Linked DNA regions of Homo sapiens. The protein of the gene in region 1 purifies or fractionates together with the protein of each later gene. This does not show direct contact. Each region holds a gene or a part of one and is shown in the gene's direction. Other genes may lie near its edges.

Region 1 (3,653 bases):
CAAGCAATTCTCCTGCCCCAGCCTCCTGAGTAGCTGGGATTACAGGCGCCCGTCACCGTGCCTGGCTAACTTTTGTAGTTTTAGTAGAGACGGGGTTTCACCATGTTGGCCAGGCTGGTCTCGAACTCGTGACCTCGTGATCCACCCACCTCGGCCTCCCAAATTGCTGGGATTACAGGCGTGAGCCACAGCGCCCGGCCTGGAATATTTTTAAACAATTTTTTTTTTAAGAAAGTTCCGTCACCCAGGCTGGAGCACAGTGGCATGATCATGGCCCACTGCAGCCCAGACCTCCTGGGCTCAGGCGATCCTCCCATATCGATGCTGGGTGTATGCCACCACTCCTGGTTAATTTTTTTTTTTTTTTTTTAATAGAGATGAAGTCTCACTATGTTGCCCCCAGGCTGGTCTTGAATTTCTGGCTTCAAGCGATCCTTCTTCCTGGCCTCCCAAAGTGTTAGGTATGAAATACCGTGCCAGGCCTAAATTCTCCTGCCTCAGCCTCCCGAGAAGGTGGGATTACAGGCATGTGCCACCACACATGGCTAATTTTTGTATTTTTTGTAGAGATGGGGTTTCACCATGTTGGCCAGACTGGTCTCCAACTCGTGACTTCAAGTGATCTCCCTGTCACGGCCTCCCAAAGTGTTGGGATTACAGGTGTGAGCCACCATGTCTGACCTCTTTTTCTTTTCTGATTGCATTGTATTTCTAGAACAAAGTTAAATAATAGGGATGACACTGAGTAACTTGTTTCATTCCTGACTTTAATGAGAATGCTGTTAGTGTTTTTGCCATTTAAGTGCCATGCTGGGGTGTGTTGCTAATGTTGTGGGGAGCTTTTTGTTTTTGTTCCTGCTCCCTCACTGATGTTTTTAAAATAAAAAATGGTGATTGAGTTTTCTCAAATGCCAGTGTACATCTGTGGAATGATCATAGAGATTTTCTTCTTTTATCTGTTAACATAATGAGTTATAGTAATGGATTTATATTATTGAATCATCATTGTATTCCTGGGATAAACTCTCTTATTGTATAGCCAGATTCTATTTATTCATTTATTTTTTATTTTTATTTTTTGAGGCGGGGTTTCACTCTGTTGCCCAGGCTGGAGTGCAGTGGCACGATCTCGGGTCACTGCAACTTCTGCCTCCCAGGTTCAAGCAATTCTCTGGCCTCAGCCTCCCGGGTAGCTGGGATTACAGGCACCTGCCACCATGCCCGGCTAATTTTTGTATTTTTAATGGAGACGGGATTTTGCCATGTTGACCAGGCTGGACTCGACCTACTGACCTCAGATAATCTGCCTGCCTCAGCCTCCCAAAATGCTGGGATTATAAGGCGTGAGCCACCGCACCTGGCCTATTTATTAATATTTTATTTTGAAATTTTACATCATGAGGCCGGGCTCGGTGGCTCACGCCTGTAATCCCAGCACTTTGGGAGGCCGAGGCAGGCTGATCACGAGGTCAGGAGATCGAGACCATCCTGGCTGACGGGTGAAACCCCGTCTCTACTAAAAAATACAAAAAAAATTAGCCAGGCGTGGTGGCGGGCGCCTGTAGTCCCAGCTACTCAGGAGGCTGAGGTAGGAGAATGGCATGAATCCGGGAGGTGGAGCTTGCAGCGAGCCCAGATTGCACCACTGCACTCCAGCCTGGGCGACAGAGCAAGACTCCATCTCAAAAAAAAAAAAAGAAAGAAAAAGAAATTTTACATCATTTGTGAGAATAGTCTGTAATTTTCTCTTATGCAACCTTTATCAAGTTGTTTTAGTGTTTTCTATAGCTTTGTAAAAAGTTTCTTACATAACATTTTATTCTAAACTTTTATTTTTATTATTATTATTATTATTTTTTTGAGACGGAGTCTCGCTGCATCACCCAGGCTGGAGTGCAGTGGCGCGATCTTGGCTCACTGCAAGCTTTGCCTCCCGGGTTCACGCCATTCTCCTGCCTCAGCCTCCCAAGTAGCTGGGACTACAGGTGCCCACCAACACACCTGGCTAATTTTTTGTATTTTTTTTAGTAGAGACGGGGTTTCACCGTGTTAGCCAGGATGGTCTCAATCTCCTGACCTCGTGATCCGCCTGCCTTGGACTCCGAAAGTGCTGGGATTACAGGTGTCAGCCACCGCACCCGGCCATTTTATTCTAAACTTTTAGCCAGCTTAAGAATTTTTTAAATTATTTGTTTAAAATTTGGTAGAAATTCTCTTGTAAAACTGTCTAAGCCTGGTGCCTTTCTATTTATTTATTTATTTATTTATTTAAATTTTTTGGTACAGGCAGGTCTTGCCACGTTGCCTAGGCTGGTCTTGAACTTCTCTCTCAAGCAGTCCTTCCACCTCTGTCCCCCAAAGTATTGGGATTATAGGCATGAGCCACCACCCTAGCCAGTGCTGTTTCAGAATATAGCACTTCGGTAACTACTACAGTGTCTTCTACGTCTGTTTAGAATTTGCTATGTCCTGGTTTCAGTTTTGGTGGTTTATGTATTCTTATAAAATTACCAATTTAATTCACCTTTTCTCCTCTGTAGCTATGGCCATTTCCCTAGTTTTCTTCCCTGTTTTTTGTAATTAGGGTTTTTCCTCCGTTTTCCTCTTTTTTTTTTTTTTTTTTTTTTTTGAGTCTCACTCTTGTTGTCCAGGTTGGAGTGCAATGGCATGATCTTGGCTCATTGCAACCTCCGCCTCCCAGTTTCAAGCGATTTTCCTGCCTCCGCCTCCCGAGTAGCTGGGATTACAGGTATGTGCCACCACACCCAGCTAATTTTGTATTTTTAGTAGAGACAGGGTTTCTCCATGTTGGTCAGGCTGGTCTCAAACTCCCAACCTCAGATGTTCCACCCGCCTTGGCCTCCCAAAGTGTTGGGATTACAGGCGTGAGCCACCGCGCCTGGCCTGCTTTTTCCTCCTGATTTAGGCTAGTCAGTAATATATCTAATATCCATACATACACTGAAGTGGGGAAATATATATACACACACACATACACACACACACATGTTTTGTGCTCCATCAAAGAAAATATCTCTTTTTAGTTCTGGGGGATGCTGAGAAGTGGAGAGAACAGGTTCTTTCTGAAGGGGACAGCAGCTACCACACCCTGTCCTGTTGCTGCCTGGCAGGAATGTGGTCCCAGAGTGGCCAGATTGTCCAGTCTTTCTGGAAAAGACTAGCTGGTGTTTTTTTTAGTTTGTTTTGTTTTGTGTTTGAGATCGGGTTTGGCTCTACACCCGGACTGGAGTGCTGCAGTGCAGTCATGGCTCACTGCAGCCTCTGCCTCTCAGGGTCAAATGGTCTTCGCACCTCAGCCTTACAAGTAGCTGGGACTACAGGCACCCACCACCATGCCTAGCTAATTTTTGTATTTTTTGTAGAGACAGAGTTTTGCCATGTTGCCCAGGCTGGACTTGAACTCCTGAGCTCAAGTGATCCACCCGCCTAAGCCTCCCAAAGTGCTGGGATTACAGGCATGAGCCAGTGCACCCGGCCTTTTGTTTGTTTATATAGTTTTTTTTTTGTCTTAGTGTGTGTGCTTGTGTGTGTGTGTGTAGTATTGCCAACTTTTTTAACATTGGTAAGTAACTCAGATGAGAACAATTTTGGAGGTTAAAAAAAAAACCCCAAACCAGTTTTTTTTGTTTTTA
Region 2 (3,653 bases), on another chromosome or scaffold:
GGTGCAAAGTTGCTTTGGGCAGGCCCATGTGAATTCCTGATACCAGAACTTCCTAAGCCTGGACAGACATTACCAGCTTTCTCAGCTCTTCTCAGTGCACTTTGGGGTTCAAGGTGAGACCTGGTTACCTCTATCTCCAGGAAAACAGGTGGAGAGAGCAGAAGCAAGCCTTTACTCTGGTGAGCAATTGGGCGATGATAATAATAGTAGTTGTGACATTATTCACTGCCTCCTATATGCCAGGCCCAACAAACGCATCAGCAGAACAAACCAAATGACTCATAGGCCAAGGAAGAAATGGAAATTAGAAAATATTTAGAATTGAGGCCAGGTGTGGTGGCTCACACCTGTAATCCCAGCACTCTGGGAGGCCAAGACGGGCGGATCACTTGAGGTCAGGAGATCAAGGCCAGCCATCCTTTGCCAACATGGCAAAACCCTGTCTCTACTAAAAATATTTAAAAAGTAGCTGGGCGTGGTGGCATGGGCCTGTAGTCCCAGCTACTCGGAATGGAAGACTGAGGCAGGAGAATCACTTGGACTTAGGAGGCAGAGGTTGCAGTGAGCTGAGATCACACCACTGCACTCCAGCCTGGGCAACAGAGCGAGACTCCATCTCAAAAAAAAAAAAAAGAAAAGAAAATGATTGAAATACTACTGCATGTCAGGATGTGTGGGATGCAGTGAGAGCAATACACAGAAGGAAATTTAAAGCCTTCAGTCTTACAAAAGAAGGAAGGATGGGCCAGGCGCAGTGGCTTATGCCTGTAATCCCAGCACTTTTGGAGGCCGAGGCGGGCGGATCACGAGGTCAGGAGATCGAGACCATCCTGGCTAACACAGTGAAACCCCATCTCTACTAAAAATACAAAAAAATTAGCCGGGCATGGTGGCGGGGGCCTGTAGTCCCAGCTACTCGGGAGGCTGAGGCAGGAGAATGGCATGAACCTGGGAGGCGGAGGTTGCAGTGAGCCGAGATCATGCCACTGCCCTCCAGCCTGGGCAACAGAGCGAGACTCCGTCTCAAAATACGCTGTGAGGAGCATCTTTAAAAAAGCAAAACTCTAAAGAGAGAGGATGACAAAACAGCCTTAAACCAGTACCTTTAAGAATTTAGACAAAATGGGGCTGGGCGTGGTGTCTCACACCCGTAATCCTAGCACTTTGGGAGGCTAAGGCAGGTGGATCACTTGAGGCCAGGAGTTTAAGACCAGCCTGGCCAACATGGCAAAACCTTGTCTCTACTAAAAATATAAAAAATTAGCTGGGCATGGTGTCGCGCACCTGTAATCCCACCTATTTGGGAGGCTGAGGCACAAGAATTGCTTGAACCCGGGAGGCAGAGGTTGCAGTGAGCCAAGATTGCGCCACAGCATTCCAGCCTGGGCAATAGAGTGAGACCCTGTCTAAAAAAAAAAGAATTTAGACAAAATGGGCACTTTATTAGAATAACATTTATTAATTTCCAGTTGCTTCTGCAACAAATTACCATCAACTTAGTGGCTTAAAAGAACACCAGTTTGGCTAGGCGCGGTGGCTCACACCTGTAATCCCAGCACTTTGGAGAGAGATGTTTAGATCGCAGCTGCGGTAGCACTGGTATAAGAGAAGAAAAACCCTTTTCCTTCTCCCCATTTAGGTTCTTGGCTGGGGCTCTGTTACAAAAGGCAGATTAACAAGACAAAAACAGAAGTTTACTAATGTGTGTATCTCATATATTCATGGGAGAAACTTGGATAGGTGACTCAAAAGTTTAGTTGGAATTGGGTTTACACAGCCTCTTAACACAGGGACAGGCCACTTAAAGAACAATAACAGGACAGACGAAAACAGCTTATGCTTCCAAGGGCAGGAAACTGTGAGAAGATAAATACGTGGGATGAAACCGATGGAGTAAGGTTTGTTTGCAGATGCGTGCGGTGTCATCTCTGGGCTGATAGGAATCTAGAATTGTCTCCAATAAAGGAGAACGTATATCCAGCTTTTAGGCAGAAAGGGGGAGGGAGGGCAGAAAGAGCTTTTCCTGTGTTTGCTGCTACTTAATTGCCTTCAGCTCAAAATACTTCTTATGTCAAAAGGGCATATTTTGGGATGGCATATTGTAGTTTCCTTCCCTGGCTACTCAGAAATAGAAGAAATCAGAACAGATCCCACCTTTCAGTCCTCACCTAGGCTCATGGCTGTCCTCACTGCCCATGGACAGAGGGATCGGGGGTGGCCCAGCCACCAGCACTGACCTTGACTGACTAGTTTATCTTGTAATTGTCTTTCTAGAAAATCAATGTGTACATTTTGAGCTGAGGGCACTGCTGAGGACCTGTTTTACCCCAGGAGGCTTGGGGCTGGCTCTGTGGCCCAGGGGGATGTCTCTGGGCACCCTGAGCCCTGTAACAATGCCAGCAGCATGAGGGAGTATGGACGGGCCCTGAAACTGCAGGTCCTGCCGCTGGTTTGTGTGCAGGGCCAAGAGGCAGGAGCCCCCTGGCATACAGGGGGCCAAGTGCAGGACGTCCTCCAGGATGTGATAAGAGAAGCGCTTTACAGAACAGAGCTGCAGGGTGATCCCATTTGGGCAAATAAAGGGGGAAAGAGGAAAACATACATTTGCTTATGAATCCATTGGTGTTTGCATGTCTGGAAGGAACCAGGAAAGTCACTACAGAGAGCGAGAAAAGATTCCCTTTTCACTGAATACACATTTCTACTGTATGCATTTTTTACCATGTTTATGGATAATGTTTCAACAATTTTACATGAAAATAACTGAAATATTCATTTTAAAAGTGTCAGGCCAGACACAGTGGTTCACACCTGTAATCCCAGCACTTTGGGAGGCTGAGGCGGGCGGATCACTTGAGCCCAGGAGTTTGAGACCAGCCTGGGCAACATGGCAAAACCCCATTTCTACAAAAAGTACAAAATTAGCCAGGTGTGGTGGAGTACACCTATAGTCCCAACTACTTGGGAGGCTGAGGCAGGAGGATGGCTTCAGCTGTTGGGTTGAGGCTACAGTGAGCCGTGGTTGAGCCACTGCACTCCAGCTTGGGTGACAGAGTGAGACCCTGTCTTAATTTTTTTAAAAAGCCTCTGCTCACAACTGGTGATGACAGTAGTTACGGGAGTTGCAGGAACTTTGTCTAGAGAGTCACACAGGCAGCGTCTCTCATCCATGTGCCTTGACTGCAAGCCAGCAAGAGCCACTGACTGTTCCCAGCTGTGCCTGTAGCCCTTAGACCAAGGTCCATGAGTCCTGGGTTCCCTGGGCCTCTCTGCTCCACCCTTTGACCTGTCCGGGACTGTGCAGGGCAAGCCCTTGTCCTCTTGCCTTCCTCCAGGGAATCATCGCAGAAGAGAACAAGAACCTGCAGCCCCAGGGAGACGAGGACCCCGGGAAGTTCAAGGAGGCTGAGCTGAAGATGCGGAAGCAGTTTGGGATGCCTGAGGGCGAGAAGCTGGTGAATTACTACTCCTGCAGCTACTGGAAGGGCCGCGTGCCCCGGCAGGGCTGGCTGTACCTGACGGTCAACCACCTGTGCTTCTACTCCTTCCTGCTGGGGAAGGAAGGTGAGCCCGCCCCTCAGTGTGCCCCAGCCCCCACACCCTCAGCCCCTCCCTGCCTTCGGCCCCCAGATACTCCATCCCCACATGGCCAC
Region 3 (3,653 bases), on another chromosome or scaffold:
CTGGCAGTGCTGAGTTTGAGGGGGCTGCTGGAGGGGGCTGCTCAAGACAGCAGCTGCACCTCTGAGCCTCTGCCTCTGCATGGGGCACAGGTTAGAGCCAGAGACATGGATTTGGAGCCCTCAGAAAAGACGGGGACATAGAAGCTGTGAGACTGGATGAGATCACCTAGAGCAAGTGGAGAGTGGGAAGAGGGCCTAGAATGGAGGTTAAGGGGATGCCTGCATATAAAGAGCAGCCAAGGGGAGGAACTTGGCAGAGATTTCAGCAGTCAGTGGCCTAGGGGAAATCCCAGCTGAGCCGGGGGACACAGAAGGGTCAATAGGATTGAATGGCATGGAGCAGTCAGGAGAGCACCAGACAGGGTCCATGAATTTCCAAATTAGGCCATGAGAAAATGTTATATTAAAAGGGCAATCAAAAGTGGAGATAGGCCAGGCGCATTGGCTCACACCTGTAATCCCAACATTTTGGGAGACCAAGGCGGGAGGATTGCTTAAGCAGGAGTTTGAGACCAGCCTGGGCAACATAGTGAGACCGTGTCTCTACAAAAATTACAAAAATTAGCCAGGCGTGGTGGTGCATGCCTGTGATCCCATCTGCTCAGGAGGCTGAGGTGGGAGGATTGTTTGAGCCCAGAAGGTCAAGGCTGCAGTGAGCTGAGATTTCACCACTGTGCTCCAACCTGGGCAACAGAGCAAGACCCTGTCTCAAAAAAAAAAAAAAAAACAAAACAGTGGAGATAGTGGAAAGAAAACTTAATGCCTTTTTAAAAATATAGTTTGGGAAGTGGCTATTAAAAGGACAGTCTATCAGCAGAAGTGACAGTCTATCACTGCAGAAAGTTAAACAGAGCTGATAGGGGAAGCCGACGAACTTGTTGACTTCTGTTTTCTGTGTACAACTGTGGAACAAATAGGGAAGACAAACAGCTGGCTGCTAACTTTGATCACATAAATGGAAGTTAAGGAAAACTGGATCATAAAAGTGATGGATAAGGAAAAAACAGTGCTAAACCATATCTTAAAATATTTTGCTTATTTTTCTCAAAACATTATATATATATGTCATGTTAAAATAGTTTAATAATATTAGTTTTTTTAAAAAAAGACATTAGATTTACCACAATTTTTTAATGGGGGTAGGCATTAGGAACTGGATTGTGATGATGGCTGCACAATTTGGGGAATTTACTAAAAATCATTGAATTGTGCACTTAAAACATGAATTTTCTTCCTTTCGTTCTTTCTTCCTTTCTATCTTCTGACAGGGTCTTGCTCTGTCACCCAGGCTGGAGTGCAGTGGCAAGATAATAGCTCACTGCAGCCTCAATCTTCCAAGCTAAAGTGATCCTCCCACCTTAGCATCCCGAGTAGCTGGGACTGCAGGCACACACCACCACGCTGGGCTAGTTTTGTTTTTTGATTTTTAAATAGAGGTGAGGTTTCTTTTTGTTGCCCAGGCTGGTCTCGAACTCCTAAGCTCAAGTGGTCCTCCCACCTTTGCCTCCCAAAGTGCTTGGATAACGGGTGTCAGCCACTGTACCTGACCTGTAATATTTTTCTGTGCTTGGAAAGTCTTTTGTTGGTCATCTATGATACTTCTCTACAAAAATACAGATGTATAACTTGAGATGAAAGATTTTCTCTTGTTCTCCTGGGACCATACATCTCTGAATATTAAACTCTTTTTTTCTTTTGGATGAAGTTACCAATACAACTTTTAATCACATGTAAGCAAAATAACATAAACATATTACAAATTTTGGTAAATAATAATAATTATTATTGTTATTTTTGAGATGGAGTCTCGCTCTGTCGCCCAGGCTGGAGTGCAGTGGCGTGATCTTGGCTCACTGCAACCTCCGCCTCCCAGGTTCACGCCATTCTCCTGCCTCAGCCTCCCAAGTAGCTGGGACTACAGGCGCCCGCCACCACGCCCGGCTAATTTTTTGTATTTTTAGTAGAGATGGGGTTTCACCGTGTTAGCCAGGACGGTTTCGATCTCCTGACCTCATGATCTGCCCGCCTCGGCCTCCCAAAGTGTTGGGATTACAGGCGTGAGCCACCACGCCTGGCCAATAATTGTTAAATGAAAAATAAAATGGAAATGCATCTCTTAATGAGGTAGATGGAGCTTTTTTAAAAAAAGTTTATTTGTGTATCCATTGATGAAAATTACATATTTTAGACTGCAACAGGAATTAGGGTCAATTGTCTTTCCGCTTTTCATTTTGTTGATGTAAGAACAGAGCAACCTTGCTTAGCTACGTAATCAAACATTGATGGAAATGAAAGTGTTTTATTATAGCAATGTCACTCACATTTTTGAACTCTTTCTGAAATGTGTTTCAAAAAGTACATAGTGATCTATCATGAAAAATTATTTTTAATCATATATTAGCTGACAATTTGATTAGATCCTCCTTCAACTTTATTGAAAGCAAAGAACTGGAAACCACTTAGCTTGAAAACAAATTTTTTCTTATGCATTCATTAATGTCATTCACCCTCCACCATTGATAGCAATACTTCAAATTGTCCTTCCATTTAGTCCCCTGGAGGTGTTTTTTTTTTTTTTTTTTTTTAATTACCAAGCAATGAAATCTTACAGTGCAATGAAATATTCAGGATAAGTGAGAGGTATAGTTTTACTTTTGTAATAAAGAGAAAAAGGACTATTGTGAAAAAAGAATCTACATGAAGCCTCAAATGCTAGTTCCTTCCCAGGCAGAGCAGCTCTGGGAAAGATTAAATATAAAGTTGAGCATCTGGGAGCTGATCCTCCTGAAGCTATCTATACCATGTACCCCTTGGAAAGTCTTCGCATACAGATTCCATAGCCTGAAGAGTGATGGTGGAAATGCCACCCTTTGATGGAGTCTGGAGAGGGAAAGGGGAGAAAGAGAGAATAGCAGCTAGCAGAGAAAGCTGGGTGGAAAGTTTATTTTTAGTCTGGGACAATGAACTAGTCATCTATTGTGGCATAACAAATTATTTCAAAACTTGACAGCTTAAAACAACAAATATTTATTCTCTTGAATCGTTTCTGAGGGTCAAGAACCTGAGAACAGTTCGTCTGGGTGATTGTGGCTCAGAGTCTCTCATGAGGCCTGGTGACCACTTTCCGTTGGTTCTCCTAATACGTCTTATGCCCGCAGCAATGCTGCCAACTTCTTCAGCTCACCTGCCAGCCAACCTTGGTTCACCTGTGTTTCCATATGTTTTTCTTGCTTTTACAGCCACTGGGGACCAGCTCTGGCCAGGACAATTCCGTTTGCCATGATGTGGGTTGAAATCACAACTTCTCCCGGGCGCAGTGGCTCACGCCTCTAATCCCAGCACTTTGGGAGGCCAAGGTGGGTGGATCACAAAGTCAGGAGTTTGAGACCAGCCTGGACAACATGGTGAAACCCCGTCTCTACTAAAAAATACAAAAATTAGCTGGATGTGGTTGCGGATGCCTGTAATCCCAGCTACTTGGGAGGCTGAGTCAGGAGAATCACTTGAAACCAGAAGGCGGTGGTTGAGTGAGCAGAGATCGCGCCACTGCACTCCAGCCTGGGCAACAAGCACAAAACTCCATCTCAAAAAAAAAAAAAAAAAAAGAAAAGAAAAAGAAAAGGAAATCAAAACTTCTTCTATGACATTTGAAC

What was found.
Region 2: the proteins of ABHD12 (region 1) and TBC1D9B purify together in Homo sapiens (affinity purification with mass spectrometry; one large-scale study listed by BioGRID and IntAct). This does not show direct contact.
Region 3: the proteins of ABHD12 (region 1) and FSD2 purify together in Homo sapiens (co-immunoprecipitation; one large-scale study listed by IntAct). This does not show direct contact.

Annotation. Positions count from the first base shown.
Region 1 is NC_000020.11:25,384,308-25,387,960, reverse strand, and holds part of ABHD12 (lysophosphatidylserine lipase ABHD12), read left to right. Parts: intron 1-3,653.
Region 2 is NC_000005.10:179,894,297-179,897,949, reverse strand, and holds part of TBC1D9B (TBC1 domain family member 9B), read left to right. Parts: intron 1-3,335; coding exon 3,336-3,564; intron 3,565-3,653. UniProt on the Homo sapiens protein: May act as a GTPase-activating protein for Rab family protein(s).
Region 3 is NC_000015.10:82,795,953-82,799,605, reverse strand, and holds part of FSD2 (fibronectin type III and SPRY domain-containing protein 2), read left to right. Parts: intron 1-3,239; exon of another isoform or gene 3,240-3,356; intron 3,357-3,653.